Homo sapiens: one gene and its partners. The protein of the gene in region 5 interacts with the protein of the main gene of each other region in a pairwise test. Each region holds a gene or a part of one and is shown on either strand. Other genes may lie near its edges. The genes, in order: KLHL42, BANP, LZTS2, MID2, TTC23, ZBTB16 and KIAA1328.

Region 1 (3,500 bases), on a different chromosome or scaffold from region 5:
AAAAAAAAAAAAACTCTTTCAATCCCAGAGTTCCTGCTATTTAAGATTCTGGATCACTGCACTATTCAGTCCCTGGGAAAAGTGAACTGCTCTACATTTGACCCCTTTATCAAAGTAAAATACTGATACATCCCAAAGCAGTCTCCGACAAAGGTGAATCAAAGTAGATGTGAAATTCTGCATAGCCAGAGGCCAAAATCTGGTTTTCTTTCTCAAGGTTCCAAATTTCTTCCAGTGCATGCATAACCTGTATTGGATGCCTCATCCAGGAAAAACTCTGTGCTAGGTTTCATTTTTACTTGTCTCATCACCTAAACTCAATTTTAAACTTCTTGAGGGCAGCAATTACGTCATCAGTTTCTGTACATCCAACAGTGACTAGAAGAATGCTGGGCTTAAAGGCTGTCGTGGAGCTGAGGCACACATGATGAAATTTTGAAAAGTAGCACTGTACCACAAAAGATCTGTGCTCTATTTTTTAGAAGGAAATAATTTTTTTTAAAGAAGGGGGGAAATGTGCATGAAGATGGTCCCTGCAAGTCTAAAATCCAAAACTTATAAACAATTTAAGTGGTTATAACTACTCAATGGATATTTACATTTTGGTTGCTGTACTTATTACACATCCTTGAGCAATTTACTTCTCTGTGCCTCACTTTCTGTCTCTTTAGAATGGGAACCTGCCTAACAGCCCTTGTGAAGAATAAGTTAGATAATTCATGCAAAGCAGCGGGAACAGTACCTACTGCAGAGTTAAGTGTTCAATTAAATGATGTCTCTCATTATTTCTCAGCTACTCTAAATAAATATAATGACTGTTACCAAGGTAAAAATGTTCACTATAGTGTTACAAATAAAGCGAAATATAAAATTATACATTAACTTTTATTACAATAATGTAAAAATATATTCCATAGTTTTTTTTAAAGAAAACACGTATTTTAAGCACCTATTATTATTGGACATCTTGTTAGGAGTAGGGCTATACATAAGCATTGAGTAAGTCCTAGTTCCTGATCGGAAGGCAGAGAGACAACAACAGAGAATTTCAATTCAAGTCGGGGAATGTGCATGAGATGCTAGAGGAGCAGACACGGAACACTCAGCCCAAGCCAGAGTTCGGGAAGGAACTCCTAGGAGATATGTCATACCTGAGTCAAAGCAGAGGGAACTAAAGAAGGGTACAATTTCCAATACAGCATCAATAATCAATTAGAAGATATAATGGAGGGTCAGGCATGGTGGCATGTAATCTTAGCACTTTGGGAGGCCACAGTGGGAGGATTACCTGAGGCCAGGAGTTCAAGACCAGCCTGGGTAACATAGCCCCCATTTCTACAAAAGAAAAAATTTTAATTTTAAAAAATTAACCAAGCATGGTGTTGCATGCCTGTAGTCCCAGCTACTGGGGAGGCTGAAGCAGGAGGATTGCTTGAGCCCAAGAGTTGAAGGCTGCAGTAAGTTATGATCACACCACTGTACTCCAGCCTGGGTGACAAAGCAAGACCCCATTTCTTTAAAAAAGAAAAAATAAAGGGATATTTGGATGTCTGGCAACATTTCCTCCCTTCCCCGTAGAAGTAACCAGCCATGGTTGAGAGGTGGAGCCCTCTTTTGGTGGGGCGATAGCTCTCAGCTTCATCATAACTCCCACCCACCCCTCTATGCAACAATTTCACCTACCCAGTCACTTTGGGATCTTATTTTTGAACACTGCAGAAAAAATAACAGCATGGGAAAACATGCACGACATTACATAACAGACAAGAGATTAATATCTGTATTCACACATAGAACTTCTCAAATGAATGTGAAGAAAATAAGCCAATTTTTAGGAAACTGGCAAAGACCATTTACAAAAGAAATACAAATGGCCAACCAACATATAAAAAGAATAATCTCTCTTCTAATTGGGAAAAATCACACTAGTGTTTTTGCCCATTAGGTTTGGGGAAAAAAAGATGATAATATTCTATCTTGGCAAGAGTATAGGGAACTGGCAAGCACAAACACTTTTGATGGAAGAGGAAATCAGAACAATTTTTTTGATGGGCAATTTGGCGGGAGCAACCAAAATCTATTTATTTATTTATTTTTAACTGTTTATAGAGATGAGGTCTCACTATGTTGCTCAGGCTGGAGTGCAATGGCTATTCACGGGCCCGATGAGAGTGCACTGCAGCCTTCAGTTCCTGGGCTCAAGTGATCCTCCTGCCTAAGCCTCCCAAGTAGCTGGGACTACAAGCGTGAACCATTGCACCCAGCTTCAACAAAATTTAAAACATGCATACACAGCTGGGCGCGGTGGCTCACAACTTAATCCCAGCACTTTGGGAAGCCTAGGTGGGCGGATCACGAGGTCAGGAGATCGAGACCATGCTGGCTAACAAGGTGAAACCCCTTCTCTACTAAAAATACAAAAAAAAAAAAAATTAGCCAGGCGTGGTGGCGGGCACCTGTAGTCCCAGCTACTCGGGAAACTGAGGCAGGAGAATGGCGTAACCTGGGAGGCGGAGCTTGCAGTGAGCCGAGATCGCGTCACTGTACTCCAGCCTGGGCAACAGAACGAGACTCCGTCCCCAAAAAAAAAAAACAAAAACAAAAAAAAAAAACACATACACTTTGCCCTACCTATCCAGGGATTCCACGAATTTGACATATGAAACTAACTCACATATGGCTACTAAGATACATGCACGCATCTACCAGGATGTTCAATGGCAGTGCTTATTGAAACATCCAATGCAAATGGAAGTGACCTAAATGTCCATAAATAAGGGAAGGGCTAATTACATTATGGTACATCCATAGGCTGGAATGCCACGCAGCCATTAAAAAGCGTGAGGTAAGGCCGGGCGCGGTGGCTCACGCCTGTAATCCCAGCACTTTGGGAGGCTGAGGCGGGCGGATCACGAGGTCAGGAGATCGAGACCATCCTGTCTAACACAGTGAAACCCCGTCTCTACTAAAAATACAAAAAAAAATTAGCCGGGTGTGGTAGCGGGCGCCTGTAGTCCCAGCTCCTCGGGAGGCTGAGGCAGGAGAATGGCGTGAACCCGGGAGGCGGAGCTTGCAGTGAGCCGAGATCCCGCCACTGCACTCCAGCCTGGGCGACAGAGCGAGACTCCGTCTCAAAAAAAATAAAAAAATAAAAAAGCATAAGGTAGATCTACATTTGTTGACACAGAAAAAAAACTCTCAGATATGGTTAAATGGAAATATCAAGTGCCATAATAATTAGTACAACCTAGACAATTTCAGAATTTTTAAAATGTGTAAGGTGATACACCCCCGTGCACATTAATATACATAAACACTTTTCCCCTATTGTTAACCACTATCAATATACTTATACAGCTGATCCTTTAATAACACGGGTTTGAACTGTGAGGGTCCACTTACATTCAGATTTTCTTCTGCCTCTGCCACCCCGAGACTGCAAAACCAACCCTTCCTCTACCTCCTTTTCCTCCTCAGCCTACTCAGCGTCAAGATGATAA
Region 2 (3,500 bases), on a different chromosome or scaffold from region 5:
TTCTGAGTAGTAGCATGATGAAGTCTGGTCGTCCTGCTCTGTCCAGCCCGGGACGTGAGTCGTTCCTTTGTCCAGCATGTCCAAGCTGTGTGGCACATATGGGCGGGAAAAAGCATAGCATATATGGGGTTCAGCACCATCCACAGTTTCTGGCGTCCACGTGGTGGGGGTAGGGGGTGCTTCTTGAAACCCTCATGGATGAGGGGGACTACTGTGAACCAAAAGCTTAATTTAAAGAAGTGACCACAGACTATATTGCACTATTCAGGATTTAGTTATCTTTTTGAATTGTAAACAGATAATCAAGAACAAACATTCCGGAAGATGTTTCTTGTTTCCTTTGCTTTTGATTTTCTTCTGATGCTTCTTGGTGTCTTTTCTTGCTGCGGATCCCACAGGGACACCTCCACATCGCCCAGGTGCCGCAGGGGGAGCAAGTCCAGATCACGCAGGACAGCGAGGTGAGTCAGCTCTCGCTGCAGCACTGTCCCTGCAGGCACCGTGCCCACATGCTCCCGACCTTCATCGGTGTCACAGTGCGAGGGCAGCAGGGAGCCCCCAGGACAGGGAACGTGGGCAAGGGCTGCAGGACTCCGCTTCCAGGGTGCACATAGCGGGCCTGCAGTCTCTGTGGCCTCTCTGCCTCCCCCTCCTGTCCGTTGGTCTCCACAGCTTCTGGTCTGTCTTGGTAAAGATCTCCTGGGTAGATGTTTCTACTGCTGGCTGGAAGTGCCCTCTGAGTACCCTTCTCTCCCTGTCTGGCCCTGCCCTTCCTGCCAGGGGAGGCCCCCAGTGTGGCCGAGATGGGGTCTGCCCCTGCGTAGGTGACCTGACATACCCCCTCACCTGCCATGTGGCCCCAGCTTCCTAGTGGCCTCTACGGGATTAGTGCCGATTTCATGGGATGGTGGGGAATCCCACAAGGTGATGCTGCCAGTCCTGAGAGCTGCTCATAGCCCTTGACGCACCTGCTGGGTCTGTGATTGTCTCAGTTTCTGGAGCTCTACCCGGCCACGCACTCAGAAGTGCGGGCTCAGCTGCTGTTGGGGTCTGGAATGTGAAGGCGGCAGTGACAGTCTGAGTTCTTGGAAAGCCGAGGCCAGCCTGTTGCGATGCTCCATGTTTGCATGCCAGAGCAGGACTGTCTCCCGGGTGACCGTCCTTCGACTCTGGGCTGTTTCCTGCAGCACAGGCAGCAGCAGGCACAGGGCACTAAGCAGCACACACGTGTTGTACTCAGTGACCGTGGTGCGCTCTGGGGGATGAGGAACATGGCTGTTTCTAGGTCGTGACAATGGCACCAGCTTTGTGTTTGGTGCATAGTAGTGTGTCGCTGCAAAGATCTCAGGCTTCCCCACACACACCAGCAGCAGAGACTAGGAAGCCCGGGTGCTGAGGTCAAGGGGACTCATGGAGATGTTGGCGTGCGAGGCCTCCTGGGAGCTCATGCTGGGTGCAGGTGCTGTGGGGGAGCAGAGGAGAGAGAAGCCCTGCCATCGGGGACTCACAGCGGGCGCAGAGCCTCCTGCCCAAGTGCCCGTGAGCAAGACTGTGGACACATGCACGCCGTGGCACGTGGAGCACCAGGGACTCGGGCGTGTCTGCTGGCAGTGGCTTTAATTTGGACACCAGCAGTTCCCGGTGGGTTATCCTGAGAGGGGAGCACATGCGTAAGGGTTCTGAGGGCGGAATGAGGATGAGGTGAAAGGGGAGGAACGAATTCATGTGGGGGCCGTGAGCGACTGGGAATGAGTGGGCTCATCCACACAGCGACATGACCAGGTCACTAAGAAACGTGGTCAGATGGATGGATGGAAGGAAGCAGCAGGGCGGGGAGCAGGTAGGGGACGGTCCCAGGAGGCCAGAGTGTCCAGGAAGGAGCAGGGCCTTCCCTGTTCTGTGTCTGTGGGTGGGTCAGGGACCATCTCCTTGGAGATGTCAGGAGATGCGCCTGTCAGCTCAGCGAGGTCAGGTGCAGGAGTTGGGGGCCTGAGTGGCTGCGAGGTGCAGGATCCCAGCAGCACCTTCCAGTGCAGGAGCTGCCTTTGAGGGGCAGGGGAAGGTTTGCTTCTCAAGGCACAGACAGATGTGGGCTGGGAGGCTAAGCTCACTGCCAAAGAGCTCAGCCAGAGTTCTTGAATACCTGGAAGCCTATGAAGTTCGTCAGAATGCTTAATTTCCTTAGAGTCATTGAAAATGCAGGAAAATTGAAACAGCAGCAAAAGAAAAAAAACAACACACATTTGCTTTTTATAGTTTATGCTAAAAAAATCTTGACTACTCGAATTTCAATTTTTTATTATTAGTTTTATCCATCAGTTTTCAAAACTGAATCCATCTTGTATAGGTGATTGTCTTTCGTTTTCAATAGGAATTGAATGCAGTAAGTTAGAAATTGCTAATAATACTAACGATGGCTTTGTGATGAGTGACAGTATGCAGTCTCGTCACCATACATTCATACCGTGTTCATTTAAAATTATTTTGTTAAAACAGGATATCTGCAAATAAACATTTAGCAGGGTCTGACAGACAACACAGTTCCTTTTTACAACAAATGAAAATGAATTTCTAACTGGAGAGCTCTTAGTAGCTCTGTGGTTGAGTGAGTTGGTTCCTTGCGTGCAGCCCGTGACCTGGCGTGGTGATGCCGCACAGCTCAGCAAGGCGTCCCCCTTCGGGGAAGCTGGGCGACACACACATAGGACGTCTCTCTGCTACTTTCTGTACTTTTTGTGAGTCAGATTCTTTCAAAATAAAAAATGAAGTAAAAATGACATTTTCATTTGGGGTCAGGGTAGGGGAATGAGTACAATGCTTTTTGAGTTGTTTGTTCATCTTTAAAATAATAAATAGTACCTAGAAATGTCAATATTTTGTTTTGGGGCTTTTGTTGCTACTGGAGGTTGAATTTTTGCAGAACTGGGGTTTTCTTGTTATTCTCAAGTGGCCTGTGATGTGTCTTGGCGTGTTTGCCGTGTCTGAGGGTGTCTTGGTGTGTTTCTACTCATGACCGTCTCCTCCTCTCGTTCTTTGTAGGGCAACCTCCAGATCCATCACGTGGGGCAGGACGGTCAGGTGAGTGTCCCAGTCCCCATGCACATGCGGGCGTTGCGCTGCCGAGGGATGGGGTTCTCAGGGGAGGGGGTGGGACGGTCAGGTGAGTGCCCTGGTCCCCATGTACATGTGGGCATTGCGCTGCCGAGGGGTGGGGCTCTCACGGGAGGGGTGGGACGGTCATTGTGGGCATTGCGCTGCCGAGGGGTGGGGCTCTCATGGGAAGGGGGCGGATGGTCAGGTGAGTGCCACAGTCCCCCTCTCACATACAGGCCATGGTGCTGCCAAGGAATGGGGGCTCTCGCGGGAGGGAGCGAGGGTGCAAAGGCCTCTCAGTGTGAGCCCCAGAGCAGGACTGGCTTTCCTCACCATGACAATGCACAGGCCTGGAAGGGGGGAGGGCAGGGCTTGGGGGTTACATTTGCTGCTCCGTAGGATTTCAG
Region 3 (2,763 bases), on a different chromosome or scaffold from region 5:
ATCTTTCCACTTTCTTCCCTCCTCAGCTGTCATTAAGGCTCTGCCTTAGTGTCCAAGGACAAGGTGCTAGTGGGCAGCCTGTGTCACCTGCACTCACTGCTCCCCAACCTCCCAAGCCAGGATAGGGGGTGAGAAAGCCAAGGTCTGGAGCTTGGGATTGGTGGGCACTTTCTCACATGCTGTCCCTTATGAGTCGCCCAAGCCTCCAGGGACACAGACTCTCAGACAGGGCCCTGAAGGGGTCAATGCATCCATTCCTCAACCCCAAGCAGCATTCTGTGCAAGGAAACGGATGAAAGGCTTTTCTAGTCCCTGAAATCCTGAGAGATCATTTCACGTTGGGGTCCACTAAGACCTCAGACATTCTACTGGATTTGTCCTTCCTCCATCACCTTTTCTCCCCAAGAGAGCTCTATGAGGGGGAGGAGAATAGCCAGCAAATGGTGGGGGGGGGGGGGTCAAACAAGTTCCTGTACTCTTTATCCAGCACATTCACATTATTTTTAAACAAAAAAATTTTTTTTAATTTTTTCTTTGGGTTTGTACAAGAAATTTACAGTGTGAAAAATATACAAGTGAAAACGAGGCCATAAACCTGGGTGAAGGGAGAGGCTGCTTGGTCACAAACACAAATAAACAAGACATTTCTGAGTTCTTCCTTTGGTCTGACTTCAGCCCCCTCACTCCAGGAGAGAGGCTGCAGAGCTCAAACCTGGGAACCGAGCCCAGGCCCGGCCCTGTCCCCCAATGTGGGCAGGCACATCCGGAGCAGCTGGTGCCATCTGGCTTTCTCTGGCTTTGGGGTCGGGGGGAATGTGAAGAGGAGGGAGCCCCTTCTTCTTCCCTGCTCCCCTGGCTGGAGTGGGCTGGAAGCGCCTGTGAACAGGGTTGGCAGTGGCACTGGCAGCGGTGGGGAATGAAGTGGGTAGTAACAAGAGCCTCTGGGTAACAGTGAACACGGGGACCTTTGAGCGGTCTGATCTTGCTCCTCCAAGTCATAGGGCCACCCTGAGTTCTTGGCAGAAGCCCAGAGGCCTGGATCCTAGGAGACAAGTGGCTTTGGGGCCCTCAGCCTTTGGGGCCATCCGTGGACCCTGGGGCCTAAGTGGATCTGCAGCTGCTGCCCCTCTGGCAGAGCTCCCTACAGAGCTGGTTGCTGAGGGCCCTAGATCTCAGTAGCAGTGATCTCCTCCAGGCAGATGCAGGGGGCCTGCTCGGCCAGGCCCAGGTCAGCGAGCTCCCGGGCCTCCAGCTCCAGGCTGAGCTGCTGCAGCTCCTGCTCTAGCTGCCGGTTGCGCCGGTACATCTGGATGTAGTTGTGCTGCAGCTGCTTCTGGTAGCGGATCACCTGCTCCTTCTCTGCCTGCCAGGCCAGCCGCTCCCCCTCAAAGCTGTCCCGCTGCTCCTCACCCCGCCGCCGCTCCCGCTGCAGCTCCACCCGCAATCGCTCCACCTGGGCCCGCAAGCTGCCCCCAACCCCGGCTGCTGCCCGCTGCACTTTGGCCTCATCACTCTCTGCCAGGAGGAATGGGTCAGCGGTGGCAGGTGGCACAGGGGGCTCCCGGAGTCCGGCCGCCTCAGCATCCAACTGCCCAGCTTTCTCCCGCAGCTGCTCAGCTTCCTGGCGGTGTCGCTGCAGCTCCTGGGAACAGGCTTCCAGCTCCAGCTCCCGAGCTCGGGCGGCCTCCTGTAGACCCCGCGCACGGCCCTCACTGACCCGCAGCGTAGCACGGGCCTCCCGCAGCGCCACCCGCAGAGCCACCAGCTCGCTGCCCTTCTGCACCAGCTCTGCCTGAGACTCTTTCAGCTGCTGCTTCAGCAGGGAGATCTCGCCTGATTTCTGGCACACCTGGGGGTGGGAGGAAGTGGGGAAGGATGGTGAGACAGGTTCTCCTGGGGGGACAGGCCCTGCACATCATGCTGGGCATTTGGGAGAGAAGAGTCCATCTTTATCCCCATTTTACAGATGGAGACACTAAAGCAAGTCTAGTGACATGTCCAAGGTCATACAGTTAAGATGGGGCTTAAGTGGAAAGCAGACCTAGAACTTTTTGCTTCAAAGCTGGTGTCTTCAAAGCATCACAAGACACTGCAAGTACCACCAAGCCCTGGGGACTGGGGACTGGGGACTGGGTCCTGGCAAGTGCTGCAGGAGTGGGGACAATGGAGGGCAGTGCCCAGGTGCCTGCTGGAGAGGTACTACAGTGACCTAGTTAAGAGCTCAGATATTGGAGCCAGACTGCCTGGGTTCAGATTTGGGGCTTCAGCCTTTATGGGCCTCAGTTTACTCATCTCTAAAATGGGGAGACTAATGGTAGCCCCCTCAGTGTTGTTATAAGGATGAAATGATCTGTTCCATGTAACATGCTTAGAATAGTGCCTCCACACCACAAGCACCACATTCTTACTACTGGCTGGAAGCGTGGCTACGTGCCACTAGACAAGGCCAACAAGGAGACCCCCCTCCCAGAAAGGGACAGAGGGGAACCTCATCTCACGGAGGTGAGAAAGGGGAGGACCTCTGGGGGTGGCAGGCTGAGGGAGGGTGGGGCTGGGCCCCTTTTTCCAGGGTTTCTCCCTGTGTGACCCTGCTCCCTGCCCCTCCTGGTCTGGCCCACCTCCCACTTGGTCTCCTCAAGCCTCGGCCCGAGCTCCCGCTGCTCCCGCTCCAAGGTGGCGCAGCGCCGCTCCAGCTGTTCGCGCTCCTGCAGCAGCTGTGCGAAGTCGTCCTGCAATTGCCGCTTCTCCTGCTGCAGCTGGAAC
Region 4 (3,500 bases), on a different chromosome or scaffold from region 5:
CAAGGTCTGTTTATACAACTTTAAAGTAGAGCGCTTCGACTAGACCAAGTCAAAGGCCTAATATCTTATGAGTCTAAGAACTGAAGTTAACAAGATTATTTCCCTCTGCAGCCTTGATATGAATGAGAGTATCAACTTGAGTGAAATAAAAAAATTGAATTTGCTACACATTTATACATATCAGGTATAAATAATAACCAAAAGAGGCACAAACCATAGTCATTGTGACTACTCTCAATATTATTTGCAACAAATTACAGGACAAATATATCCTATTCTGAGTACTGCTACTCTCACCAACATTATACTTTTTACAGAAGTTACAATGAATCATCCACTGCATGGCAGGAGGAAAATCTCCATTCCCTTCTTGCCCTCCTTTTATCCTATCTGGGTCTTTCTTCTAGCTTGGCTTATGTACTCAGGTTCTATTTGGAGTGGTAATTTTACTATCCGTTTAAACATTTTATTTTTCTAGAATATCTGCTAAGTAGCTCCCTTCTTAAGAGAAATTATACAACATAGCAGACAAGCAATGGGAATAAAACAATTCGCTGGATCATCAGTGTAAGGTAGGAGGACTTTTTATGGGCACTTAGACTTGTACATACATATTATATGACACAACAACTTTAGAAAACTCTGTCCATTGAATACACATAAATGACTAGGAACTTGTAAGGCAGGAACTATAAACAAATGCTTCAGTTTGTAGCCCATAATAGTGAGCACTGTCACAAAATTTGATACTGGATAAAATATTTATTGCCTTCAGTTTAAATTGTTCATTCAGATATTTAATTATCCCTCCCAATTTCGTGGTATACTGAAGTTTCTTCAGTTCTTTGTTTTGTTTTGTTTTGTTTTGTTTTTAAAGGCAGGCTTAGAATTAGCCCTATGTTAAAGGCTTAATGGCAATTTGTAATGGCCAATGCCAAACTTTTGTTTCTTTAGTGTATTGAGTACACAAACACAAACATACAATAATGTCCTCCACAAAAATCTCTCACCTACCTAGATACACTCAGCCACCTCCACCCACACCTACACAGAGACACACCCTGCCTTCCCATTGCCATATACCTACATATGCAAATCGACACATATGCTAATTGTAGTACACGTACACAAGTACTCACATACTTAAAAGAAGAGGTGGAAAGATCATAGCAAAGATATATAATAAGCAATATGTCACTGACAGAAGATAGAGGGTGTGTTTCCCTGGATGAACTACTGGTGTTGCAGGCCATGAGCTGACTCCCCAAAAGTTAGCCAGAAGTGTGTGACTGCAAGAATGTTTATGCAACAGATGAGATAGGCTCCAGGAAGAGCTTGCAGGAGAGCAGGTTATTCCTCATGAGAACAACTTAAAGTTAACTCACTTGTCATATAGGAAAAGTCACCTATTTTATTAGAGAACTTGCTAACTGCATTTATGCGACAAAGTTGTATAGGGGATGCTCCCCAGATCCCTTACCTTGAGTTTCTCAAATCGATCATTCAGGGATGCGACCTGATGGTCTCGGTGACGACCCACCAGTTTGCATAAGGCACAGATCAATTGGTCATCAGATACACAGTACATGTTCACTTTCTCATTCTCATGGTCCAGGCAGGTGATCCCTCGAAGATGTGTGTCTGGCACTGGTTCCACCAGGCGGTGGCTGGTGAAAGGTTTCTTGTTGGGGTGCGTGGCCCGCAGGCAACGGTCACAGTAGGAGACCTCACAGGTGATGCATGTTTTTACTGCATCCCTTGGCGGGTCCTGCTCACAGAATTGGCAAGCAATTCGCTCGCTAGACATGGCAGTGGTGGGCCTGTAAGTCCTTTCCCGGCGGCTCTCACTAGGGGAATTGGGCCCACTGACTGAAGCCTTCTGGAAGCGATCAATAATGTTCTGCAGAGTCACATTCCTCTTGAGGCCATCCAGGCCCCGGTGGTTCAGCGAGATAACATACCTGCAGGTAGGACACTGGAAAGCAGTAATGGGTTCAATGGATTCACCAGAGCTGCAGCTTGATACCAAAATGCGATGGGCACAGCTGAAGCAGAGGCTGTGAGCACAAGGGAGCAGAAGGGGGTCTTCAAACAACTCTAGGCAGATTGGACAGGTCAATTCAGACTCCAGTGTTTCCATCTTTAGTGAAAATAGTCCTCCTGAGGCATTAAGAACCACGGAGGCTGGGCTTTCACCTGCAAGGAATACAAAGCAAGAGTCATTAGGCATTTCCAAAGGAAAATGGATATAACACAATTATACACTAACCAATGGGCGCGTTTACGTGCTGGATTCCCCAGAGATGCTTAAGCAATAGAAAAGCAATTTGGGAACTAATCAGGAAGACTTTCTTCCCCTTCAAACCTTGTTTTAGACAAATGCCTATGTTTATTTTCATGCACAAATAGATAAAACCAAATGGCCACCTCTGAATCCTGATAGACTGATTAACATTACCATTCCAGCTCACAATATTTGCATGGATCATTCTCTCACATATTCTCCACTGACATCTCTTTTCCTAGACTAAGATAAGGCTGAGACCCTGCAAAATTCCCAATCTCTATTCTCCAATATTGTTCTCTATTTCACTTCAAGGTAAACTGTAGGGCTGCTTCTATGTGACATCCAGTGTAAGGAAAACAATGCCATATTTTAAAGTAACTCTCTACTTCCTGAAATGATTCCATTCTGAAAGCCTGCATAAAAAAGAGAGAGCTTTAGAAAAATGTAGCCCTTGGTGCAGGATAATAAGTTTTTCCTCAGAGTGTGAACTTGAATTACTTCTTATTATCACACATGGAAATTTCCGTTCCATTCTATTCCTAGTAAACTGAGTTACTTGAGATAAAAGATGATAGTTTTCACTTTCATCTTCTTCCCTCACCTTCAGAAACCCCTTCAGTTCATCAAGCTGAATGGGGAATGATTTCAAACTTTTCAACCTACTCAGCAATAGTTGCTGATCAATAATAAAGTCATATTGCCTTGTGGCTTCAGTTTGGTTTCATTACTAAACACCTGCTGAACTAGCACAAGCCAGCTATGAAGCTCACCTCCCATGTGTCTTTTCATACTTTCTAAAACATAACAGGATGCAAATCAATATCTAGATAGAAATTAGCAAAGTTCCAGAAATTTTAAGATCTGGTAACCTTCAATTTAGTGAGCATCAGTGAGTAAAAGAGGTCACCCGGCCGGGCACAGTGGCTCACGCCTGTAATCCCAGCACTTTGGGAGGCCAAGGTGGGTGGATCACGAGGTTAGGAGGTCCAGACCTTCCTGGCCAATATGGTGAAACCCTGTCTCTACTAAAAATGCAAAAATTAGCTGGGCGTGGTGGCGCTTGCCTGTGGTCCCAGCTACTCGGGAGGCTGAACCAGAAGTATCGCTTGAACCTGGGAGGTGGAGGTTGCAGTAAGCCGAGATCATGCCACTGCACTCTTGCCTGGGTGACAGAGTGAGACTGCCAAAAAAAAAAAAAACAAACAAAACAAAC
Region 5 (3,500 bases):
GTACAGTGGCTCGATCTCAGCTCACTGCAACCTCTGCCTCCTAGGTTCAAGCGATTCTCCTGCCTCAGCCTCCTGAGTAGCTGGGATTACAGGTGCCCACTACTATGCCCAGCTAATTTTTTGTATTTTTAGTAGAGACAGGGTTTCACCATGTTGGCCAGGCTGGTCTTGAACTCTTGACCTCGTGATTTGCCCACCTCGGCCTCCCAAAGTGCTGGGATTACAGGCGTGAGCCACCACGCCCAGCCCCATGTTACTGATTTTTAATTGTTCTTTATATATTGTGGTTAAAGTCCTTTATCAGATTAATGATTTACAAATATTGTCTCCCATTCTGTGGGTTGTCTTTTAACTTTAATAATAGTGTCTTTTGAAGCAGTAAAGATTTGGATTTGATGAAATCTAATTTATCTTTTTTTTTCTTTTATCACTTATGCTTTTGGTGTTATATCTCAGAAGTCTTTGCCTAACAGGCTGGGCCCTGTGACTCACACCTGTAATCCCAGTATTTTGGGAGGCCAAGTCGGGTGGATCACCTCAGGTCAGGAGCTCGAGAACAGCCTGGCCAACAGGGTGAAACCCCGTCTCTACTAAAATTAGCTGGGCGTGGTGGTAGGCACCTGTAATCCCAGCTGCTTGGGAGGCTGAGTCAGGGAGGCTGAGTCAGGAGAATGTCTTGAACCTGGGAGGTGGAGGTTGCAGTGAGCCGAGATCACGCCACTGCACTCCAGCGAGAGTCTGTCTCAAAAAAAAAAAAAAAAGTTCATGAAGATTTACTCCTATATTTGCAAAGAGTTTTATAGTTTTACCTCTTACTGTTAAGTCTTTACTCCATTTGGAGTTAATTTTTGTATATGGTGTGAGGTGTAGAGATCCAACTTTATTCTTTTCATGTATCTATCCAGTTGTACCAGCACTGTTTATTGTTTATTGAAAAGACTGTTCTCTTCCCATTGAATTATCTTGGCATGCTTGTTAAAAAAAATAATTCACATATATAAGAGTTTATTTTTGGACTCTCAACACTATCCCATTTTTCTATATATTAATTCTTTTTTTTTTTTTTTTGAGATGGAGTCTCGCTCTGTCACCCAGGCTGGAGTATAGTGGTGTGATCTTGGCTCACTGCAACCTCTGCCTCCCAGGTTCAAGCGATTCTCCTGCCTCAGCCTCTCGAGTAGCTGGAATTACAGGTACTTATCACCAAATCTGGCTAAATTTTTTGTATTTCTAGTAGAGACAGCGTTTTGCCATGTTGGCCAGTCTGGTCTCGAACTCCCGACCTCAAGTGATCCGCCCACCTCGGCCTCCCAAAGTGCTGGGATTACAGGCATGAGCCACCACGCCCGGCCTCTATATGTCATTTCTTATGCCAGTACCACCACGTTGTTTTGGGGAGGGCTTTTCCCCAGCTTTATTGAAATATGATTGACAAACTAAAAATTATATACATTTGAGGTAAACATCATGGTGTTTTGATATAAGTGTACCTTTTGTAATGATTCCCACAATAGAGCTAGCTCACACATTCATCACTTGACATAATTACCATTTTTGTGTGTGTGATGAGAACATCTGAGATCTTAACAAATTTCAATTATTTTCTATAGTTACCATGCTGTATATCTCTAGAACTTATTTACCTCATAACTGAAAATTTTTAAGTACAACACTTTTGATTACTTTTACTTTAGTTTTATAGTACATTTTAAAAATGGGAAGTGTGAGTCCTCCAACTTCTTTTTTAAGATTGTTTTATTTATTCTTAGTCTCGTATTTCCATCTTAATTCATCCATAATAAGGATCAACTTGTTAATTTCTGCAAAAAAACAGCTGAGTTTTGATGGATATTACATTAAATCGATACATCAATTTGAGGAGTATTCTATCTTAATATTGAGGCTTTTAATCTATGAACATGGAATGTCCATGTATTTAGATCTTTAATTTCTTTCGATAATGTATGATTTTCATTGTACAAGTCTTGTATTTCTTTTGTTAAATTTATTCCTACATATTTATTCTCTTTATCCTATTTTGAATCAGTGTTTTCTTAATTTTATTTTCAGATTATTTATTGCTGACATATAAAAATACAATTTTATTTATTTATTATGTATCCTATGGCCTTGCCGAACTTATTTAGTCGTTCTAATTGGGGGGGGCGATTTATTTGTTTATTTATTGTGGAATCCTTAGGATTTTCTACATAGAGGGTTATGTCAGCTGATAATAATGTTTTATTTCTCCCTTTCTAATCTTCATGCCTTAATTTATTGTTCTTGCCTGTTGCTCTGACTGTAATATCCACAACTTTGACTACAGGTGGTGAGAGAAATCATTCTTGCCTTGTTTCCAATCTTGGAAAACATTCAAACATGCTCCATTAAGTATGATATTAGCTTTAGGTTTTTGTAAATCAGGATTTTTTGGTTTTGTTTTTTAATTTTTAATTTTTGTGAGTACATAGTAGTAGGTGTATATATTTATGAGATACATGTGATGCTTTGACACAGGCATACAATGTATAGTAATCACATCAGAGTAAGTGGGTATCTGTGTCCTCAAGCACTTATCATTTCTTTGTGTTAGAATTATTCCAATTCTACTCTTTTAGTTATTTTAAAATATACAATAACTTATTGTTGACTGTAGTCACCCTGTTGTGATATCAAGTACTAGATCTTATTCATTCTATCTAACTACGTTTTGTACCCATTAACTATCCCCACTTTTCCCTCCCTGCCCAATACCCTTCCCAGCTTCTGGTAATCATCATTCTACTCTCTGTGTTCATGAGTTCAGTTGTTTTAATTTTTAGCTCTCATAAATGAGTGAGAACATACAAAATTTGTCTCTCTCTGCCTGGTTAATTTCTCTTAGTATAATATCCTTCAGTTTCATCCATGTTGCTGTAAATGACAGGATTTCGTTCTGTTTTGTGTGTATATCTACCACATTTTTTTATCCATTCATGTGTTGATGAACATTTAGGCTGATTCCAAATCTTGGCTGTTGTGGATAGAGCTGCAGTACACATGGGAGTGCAGATATCTCTGATATACTTTTCTTTTGGATATATATGGAGCAGTGGGACTGCTGGATCATATGGTAGTTCTTCTATTTTTAGCTTTTTGAGGAACTTCCATACTGTTCTCCACAGTGGCTGTAATAACTTGCATTCCCACCAACAGTGTATGAGTGTCCCCCTTTGTCCACATCCTCACCAGCATCTGTTACTGCCTTTTTAATAAAAGCCATCTTAACTGGGGTGAGATGACCTCATTGTAGTTTGATTTGCCTTTCTGTGCTGATCAGTGATGTTGAGTATTTTTTCATATACTTGTTGGTTATTTGCATGTCTTTTGAGAAATGTCTATTCAGATCTTTTGCTCACTTTTTAATCAGATTATTAGATTTTTTTTCCTATTGGGTTTTGTTTAAGCTCCTTATATATTCTGGTTATTAATCCCTTGTCAGATGGGTAGTTTACAAATAT
Region 6 (3,500 bases), on a different chromosome or scaffold from region 5:
AAAAAATAATGTGGATGGGCACGGTGGCTCACGCCTGTAATCCCAGCACTTTGGAGGCCGAGGCGGGTGAATCACTTGAGGTCAGGAGTTCGAGACCAGCCTGACCAACATGGCAAAACCCTGTCTCTACTAAAAAAAATACAAAATTAGCTGGGCGTGGTGGCACACACCTGTAATCCCAGGTAATTGGGAGGCTGAGGCAGGAGAATCGCTTGAACCCAGGAGGCAGAGATTGCAGTGAACTGAGATCGTGCCACTGCACTCCGGCCTGGCCAATAAGAGCGAAACTCCGTCTAAAAAAAAAAAATGTGAAGGCACTCTGAAGTGGTAAAACATCATATGCATATAGGGATTATTAAATATATCTGCTCTTCTAATCTCAGAACCAAACACAATCTAACTTTACAACTTCCCAACCTTCATAACAACCTAATTCAATGTATCCTAATTCTTACTCTAACCCTTGAGTAACATGAAATTACCCTAACCTTCACTTTCAGCTAATTGGACCAACTTACCCCTAATTCAGGACTCATATACAGACATCATTTTGCATGTCACCTCTGAACTACTGGTATAGCTGCCTGGAGGGCTGATGGGGGCTCACTGGAAAGTGTGCTGGGATTGATTAGTAATGTCTGCCTTGGCCTTGACTGATGGCCCTCAGGCCACCTTGACTGGGGTGTGGTGGTCCTCAGGCCACCATACCAGCTCTTAATAGAACCTCTTCTACTCTTTGATTCAGCCTGGGATCATCCTCACTTAGGCTTCTCTAGGAGACTATCTGCTTCCCACCTCCGCCCAGGTCCCAGAGCCAGCTCAGGCCCCTCCCTGGCCTTCGGTACCTGTGTGCACCCTATAGTGCGTCTCCAGCTGATGCTTGAGGCTGAACTTCTTGCCACAGCCATTGCACTCGTAGGGTTTCTCACCCGTGTGGATGCGTTTGTGGCTCTTGAGTGTGCTCTCATCCCGGAAGCAGCTGCCACAGAACTCACACTCGTAGGGGTGGTCGCCTGTGGAGACAAGGGGCTGGATCAGGCCTTTGCCTCTCCCTGCCCCCTCTTCAGGGGACAGTAGGGCACATTCTGTGCATGAGAAGGATGCGACGGCCTGTATTCACCACCTCCAAAGACAACTTAAGGATCCACGGCCACACCTCCATTGAATAAACAAGCAATACCTGTCTTCACACATGACCATACTTTACTGTGGCCCCATGATCATCTGTGGGGCAAGGGCCAGTCCTGGGAAAGAGAGCCCATTTGGTTCAGGGATGGACAGCAGTCCCCAGAAAGCAAGCCCCCTTGTGGATACATGAGACCTCACCATCTTGCTTCTCAGATGACCTCTTCTCCCCTTCCTTTAGGTTAAGGGTGAAAGTCACTCCAGCCTGACTCCCCAACCTTCAAAGAAATCTCTCCAATTTGAGGAACTTCACATTGTCCCCCAAACACCTTCTACAGTCCCCAATTTCCTTCCTCCACAGTCTTACATAGCTGTTTCCTCTGCTCGATTTCTTCTTTTCTCCCTGGTGAACTCCTAATCATCCTTCAAAGCCCAGCTCATATGATACCCCCGCGTGGACGCTTCCCTTTAGTTCCCCAGGCAGAATGAATCACACTTTCTTCTGTGTCCCCAAAGAGAAGAAATGCCCAGAATTTTGTTCTGTTATTAGTGTGGTATCATTTTTATGCCACTTTCGCATTAAAATGGGCTACATTTCCTGAGCACTCAGATGTGTGATGTGATCGCATCAGATGATCATGGCAACAAACTTAAAGAAAGATATTAGTCTCATTTTACAGTTGAGAAAAAAATGAGATGCTTCCACATCATCCCTAAGGTGAAACGGCAAGTAAGGAGCTGAGTTGGGATTCAGGTTTGGGTCTGGCTCTAGAGTCAGGGTACCATATACTTGTCAGCTTGCTGACACACTATGCTGTATCTACTGGCTTGCCCACCATACCTCCAGCATGGAAGCACCACCAGGATAAGAAGCAAGCCTCACCCATCCTTGTAGCCTCAGTGTATCGCACAGGGAGGATCCAGAACAGACCCAGGAAATGGTGGGTCTATGAAACTTGGAGAGAACTGCCTTTTCTTTTTTGAGGATCCCACTCTTAAATCTCCAGAGCATGAGAGGTTGGGGTGTGGAGAATAACCATCTTGCCTTTCATATCCAAAGTGGGGGGCTTGGGGGATGAAAGGTGAGGACTCCAGCTACTTATTTATTACAGGAGTGAAGGCGCAGACAATAAAGATAGATTGATCACCCCAGACTTTGTTCATGAATATTTAAATATCGCTGATTCGTCTTGTCACTGTAATTACAATTTCTCTGGGCTGCATCTCCAACAACCACAGTTTATGGTAAAGAATGGCCCACTGTATTTCACTTGTCCCTCTGCAGATGTGCGGGGCTGCCAACCGTGTAATGTCCTCTGCATTTCATACATTTTCTTCAGCTGCTGAAGGTTTAAGTCATCCACAATGACCTACGTTTTTGCATTATCCCCATGTCAAACTGCGCTCGTGCCTGGGCATAAATTGTCCTTCTCGTTATAGACTCGCATGCCTGTGCCTTCACTTCCTTTTTAAAATGATATTTTACTCTCTCCTGTCTCTCCCCTCCTCGGGCCACTAACCAAAGCTCCCCCCTCCCAAAGTTAGGCCCCTGTACCCACATAAATTCTCATCTGTTCTGATGGCTCTGAGGGGTTTTTAGGGCTCTGAGGGGAGCGGATGCTGGGGTCTGATCAGTGACTTTCTCATGGGTGGAAGATTTGCAAGAAGCACCCATGCCATGAGAGGGGCACTTCCATCAGGGAATCAGATGAGAGAAGCTCAAAGAGTGGCATCGTGCCTTGACACCAGTTCACCCCAATCTATGGGGTGTTGCACTGGCTCAGAGGCTCGGCCAGCGAGTCCCTCACCTGCAGATCTGGGGATGGGCCAAGGCCCAGGGTTCTCAGTTGGGGAAATTGCTACCTGCCCATCCTCACTGCCAGAGCCATGCGGACTGCCTGGCCCCCAGCCCCATCAAACTCAAGGGAGTGGAGGCCTGTGCAGACCCTGGTACTAATTAGTTGTGTGTCTAACACAGTAAGGGCCAGTCTGTGTGTGCACCCGAACCCACTCTCTCCGTGTGTCTGCACTCACAGCCCTGTCTGGTCTGACATCCAACTCCCCCTCCTTACTGAATCGGCAACGATTACGACTTTAATCAAAGATTCAGTATCCTCATTAAGGTATAAATAAATAAATAAAGCCAAGGCCACGTGAGACTTCAGCTGGAGCCGGTAATTAAAACGTACATCGGCAGCCACCCAGCCGGGTGGGGGTGAAGGCGGCGGTGGGGGGGAAGGGGGCGGCTGCCTGTGCCTTTCCCCTCCAGAGGGGTCCCTAACAATTTAAAAAACAAAGGGTTAAGACAGAGGAGTTTGTTTGATCCGATTTTTAGGAATTTAATTATGAAGTGGAGCACATGTTAAATGAGTTTA
Region 7 (3,500 bases), on a different chromosome or scaffold from region 5:
CTTTAAGAACTTGGAAACTAAATATAACACTTCTAAATAACCCATGGGTCAAATAGGAAGTTTCAAAAGATACCCCAAAAACACACTGAATTGGATAAACATGAAAATGCAACATATCAAAATTTGTGGGACATAGCTGAATCAGTGCCGAGAAGGGAATTTAGAGCACTAAATGCTTCCAGTAGAAAAGTGAAAAAGTCTCAAACCAATATGCTTCCACCTTAACAAATTAGGAAAAAAGAAGAGCAAAGTAAATTTAAAGCAAGCAGAAGGAAGAAAATAATAAAGAGCAGAAATCAATGAAATTGAAAACAGAAAAACAATAACAAAAACTAAATGAAACAAAAACCCAGTTATTTGAAAGATAATTAAAATGAACAAACCTGTGGCAAGGCAGATTATCCAATAGATAATTTGAATAGCCTTGTAAGTATTAAGGAAATTAAACTTGGAATTTAAAAAGTCTCAAAAAATAAATTTCCAGGTCCAGATGGCTTCACTGGAGAATTCTACTAAACATTTAAAGAAGAATTAACACCAATTCTACACAATCTCTTCCAGAAAGCAGAAGCAGAGCGAACATCTCCCAACTCATTTTATGAGGCCTGCATTACCTTGATACCGAAACAAGACAAGGACACAGGGGAAAAAAGAAAAAGGAAAACAACAGAACAATATCCCTCATCAAAACTAATGTAAATAGGCCAGATGCAGTGGCTCACGCCTGTAATCCCAGCTACTTGGGAGGCTGAGGCATGAGAATCCCTTGAACCCAGTAGGTGGAGGTTGTAGTGGGCTAAGATCATGCCACTGCACTCCAGCCTGGGTGACAGAGCAAGACTCTGTCTCAAAAAAAAAAAAAAAAACTGATGCAAATATCCTCAACAAAATATTAGTAAATGGAATTCAGTAACATTTTAAAAAATCATACATTATGACCAAGTGGGGTTTATTTCAGGGATGCAAGGCTGGTTTAATATTTAAAAATCTATGTAATTCACCATATTAACAGGGCAAATAAGACAAATCACATGATCATAAAAGATATTTGACAAAATTCATAAAAGGTATTTGACAAAATTCAACACCTATGATAAAACTTTATATAATCCGTAACAGAAAAAAAAGATAAATTGGACTTCATTAAAATTAAAAATTTCTGCTCTATGAAAGATCTCATTAAGCAACTAAAAAGGCAGAGTCAGGAGCAGTGGCTCAAATTCCAGCAGTGGCTGTAATTCCAGCACTTTGGGAGGCTGAGGTGGGATAATTATTTAAGTTCAAGACCAGCCTGGGCAACAGAGTGAGAGCCTGTCTCTACCAAAAGAAAAAAAAATTAAAGATAAAAAAGAAAAGACAAGTTACAGACTGGGAGAAAATATTTGCTATTCACATATCTGACAAAAGACATATATCTAGAAGATATGAAGAACTCTCCAAACAGCAAAACACCCAAATGATCCAATTAGAATATGGGCAATACTGAAGAGAGAATTTACTGAAGAAGATAGGAGGGCAAACGTGCACACACACAAAAAGATGTTCAACATTACTAGCCATTAGTGAAATGCAAATTAAGACTGCGATGAAATGTCACTATACACGTATTAGAAGAGGTAAAATAAAAATTAATGAGAATACCAAATGCCAACAAGGATGTGGAGTAAAGAAACATTATATAATAATAAAACAGCAATTTATCTTTTGAAGCACTGTTCTTAGGAAGAATTGTTAAGGGAAGAACAGCCTACATGTGGATAGGTGTATGAGAATTCATCATTCAACAGGTCATGCTTCATGGCCAGAAAGGGTTGAATTTAGAAGACTCCCATCACTTGTTATATTTTATATTATGGTGGGTAGACATAAATTCGGAATGATGACAGCTAATCTCACTGCTTTACAATCTAATTCCACACCCCGAAATCTCAAGCTTTTACTTAATGCCTAATATTGTCCACAATGATATCAAACAGCAAAGGATTCTGCATAATGGCAAGATCATTTTAAAATGTCTTTGGAACCCAGCAAAAATTACACCAGACTGCTCAGAAATAGATATTCTAAGCTATCAATTTGGAAGACAAGGTAATCTTTGAAGTCTTCCAAAGAATAAAGGGGAATTTACTTAGTAGACATAACTGATATGCATCTCGAGTAAGCCAAGATCCAGAAAAACCTCTGGTTCTACCCATCTGCTATAGTATTACAACAATTTTACACTGTGCTCTCCAAACTACAGACATTGCTAAAAGAACAGGCAGGACTTGGGCAGGCGCGGTAGCTCATGCCTGTAATCTCAACACTTTGGGAGGTCAAGGCGGGTGGATCATGAGATCAGGAGTTCAAGACCAGCCTGGCCAAGACAGTGAAACCCCGTCTCTACTAAAAATACAAAAATTAGCCGGGCATGGTGGCGGGCGCCTGTAATCCCAGCTACTCGGGAGGCTGAGGCAGAGAACTGCTTGAACTCGGGAGGCGGAGGCTGCAGTGAGCTGAGATTGTGCCACTACACTCCAGCCTGGGCAACAGGGCGAGATTTCGTCTCAAAAAAAAAAAAAAAAGAACAGGCAGTACTCACCAATTGTAATCCAGTCGAGACTGGTGAAGCTGCTGCTGTTTTAGAAGAAGCTTTGTCTCCTGCTGGGCCAGCAGATGCTGAAGGCGCTCCTTTTCAATTTCCAGTTCCATTTTCTGAAGCATCAGTTGCTGCTTTCTATCTTCTGAGATCTGCTTTTTCAAAGTTTCAATGGGTTGCAGTGCCCCACCACCATGCACCAGAGATGCCCAAGAAAGCCGACAATAACTGCATGATTCTGGATGTGTCTTAGGATGTTGAGGGGTCATGTTTGTAGGATGGCTGTCATGAACACGATCTGCAGCAAGTCTATGACCACAGCATTGACTAGGAGTAGGCTTAAGATGTGGACATTCCTTCATGTGCAATTCTTCTTGTGGCATTTTCTCTGTTGGGACTGCAGGTTTTCTCCCTGGAGATTCACAATTACATGTTGTGGTCTCTGATGGTATCTTATCTAGATCATCTTTGGGATGATGAAGGGTTACTGGTTTCAAAGAATTATTCCTAAATGCTATAAGGGATTCTGAAGCTGAATCCTGGACTGCAGACTTAGGTCTTTGCTTGGTTTGATAGTAGGTCTGTGGTCTGGCTATGCTCAAGTAGGAACCATCCAGTTCCACAGATGAACACTGGAGAGTGCTTTTTCTACTGGATACCTAGAAAGAACCACAAGATCACCTGTCAAATAAGAACACAACAAAACAAGTTCTTTCGTTTGGTTTTTCAGAAATCAGTGATATATATTTACCAAGCCAAAGCTGTTGTTTTGTCTTAAATATTAAATTATAGCATTCACACAGCTAAACAGACTTGTGCCCCAAAGCTACATCCATTTTCAAACAACCTACCCTTCAGTAAATCTATATAAAGATAAGAAAAATAAGTTGCTGCTACATGTTGCTTAAGCATGATCTTTGGT

Evidence for each region.
Region 1: the proteins of TTC23 (region 5) and KLHL42 interact in binary tests that used the Homo sapiens proteins (3 or more experiments, as listed by UniProt).
Region 2: the proteins of TTC23 (region 5) and BANP interact in binary tests that used the Homo sapiens proteins (3 or more experiments, as listed by UniProt).
Region 3: the proteins of TTC23 (region 5) and LZTS2 interact in binary tests that used the Homo sapiens proteins (3 or more experiments, as listed by UniProt).
Region 4: the proteins of TTC23 (region 5) and MID2 interact in binary tests that used the Homo sapiens proteins (3 or more experiments, as listed by UniProt).
Region 6: the proteins of TTC23 (region 5) and ZBTB16 interact in binary tests that used the Homo sapiens proteins (3 or more experiments, as listed by UniProt).
Region 7: the proteins of TTC23 (region 5) and KIAA1328 interact in binary tests that used the Homo sapiens proteins (3 or more experiments, as listed by UniProt).

What each region holds. Positions count from the first base shown.
Region 1 is NC_000012.12:27,783,233-27,786,732, reverse strand, and holds part of KLHL42 (kelch-like protein 42), read right to left. Parts: intron 1-3,500. UniProt on the Homo sapiens protein: Substrate-specific adapter of a BCR (BTB-CUL3-RBX1) E3 ubiquitin-protein ligase complex required for mitotic progression and cytokinesis. The BCR(KLHL42) E3 ubiquitin ligase complex mediates the ubiquitination and subsequent degradation of KATNA1.
Region 2 is NC_000016.10:88,034,934-88,038,433, forward strand, and holds part of BANP (protein BANP), read left to right. Parts: intron 1-389; coding exon 390-461; intron 462-3,039; coding exon 3,040-3,078; intron 3,079-3,500. UniProt on the Homo sapiens protein: Controls V(D)J recombination during T-cell development by repressing T-cell receptor (TCR) beta enhancer function. Binds to scaffold/matrix attachment region beta (S/MARbeta), an ATC-rich DNA sequence located upstream of the TCR beta enhancer.
Region 3 is NC_000010.11:101,005,571-101,008,333, reverse strand, and holds the end of LZTS2 (leucine zipper putative tumor suppressor 2), read right to left. Parts: coding exon 2,619-2,763; intron 1,850-2,618; coding exon 1,166-1,849; 3' UTR 501-1,165; downstream 1-500. UniProt on the Homo sapiens protein: Negative regulator of katanin-mediated microtubule severing and release from the centrosome. Required for central spindle formation and the completion of cytokinesis.
Region 4 is NC_000023.11:107,839,366-107,842,865, reverse strand, and holds part of MID2 (probable E3 ubiquitin-protein ligase MID2), read right to left. Parts: intron 2,197-3,500; coding exon 1,481-2,196; intron 1-1,480. UniProt on the Homo sapiens protein: E3 ubiquitin ligase that plays a role in microtubule stabilization. Mediates the 'Lys-48'-linked polyubiquitination of LRRK2 to drive its localization to microtubules and its proteasomal degradation in neurons.
Region 5 is NC_000015.10:99,243,082-99,246,581, reverse strand, and holds part of TTC23 (tetratricopeptide repeat protein 23), read left to right. Parts: intron 1-1,071; 5' UTR 1,072-1,193; intron 1,194-3,500. UniProt on the Homo sapiens protein: Participates positively in the ciliary Hedgehog (Hh) signaling.
Region 6 is NC_000011.10:114,244,711-114,248,210, reverse strand, and holds part of ZBTB16 (zinc finger and BTB domain-containing protein 16), read right to left. Parts: intron 1,014-3,500; coding exon 846-1,013; intron 1-845. UniProt on the Homo sapiens protein: Acts as a transcriptional repressor. Transcriptional repression may be mediated through recruitment of histone deacetylases to target promoters. May play a role in myeloid maturation and in the development and/or maintenance of other differentiated tissues.
Region 7 is NC_000018.10:37,066,627-37,070,126, reverse strand, and holds part of KIAA1328 (protein hinderin), read right to left. Parts: intron 3,260-3,500; exon of another isoform or gene 3,238-3,259; coding exon 2,582-3,237; intron 1-2,581. UniProt on the Homo sapiens protein: Competes with SMC1 for binding to SMC3. May affect the availability of SMC3 to engage in the formation of multimeric protein complexes.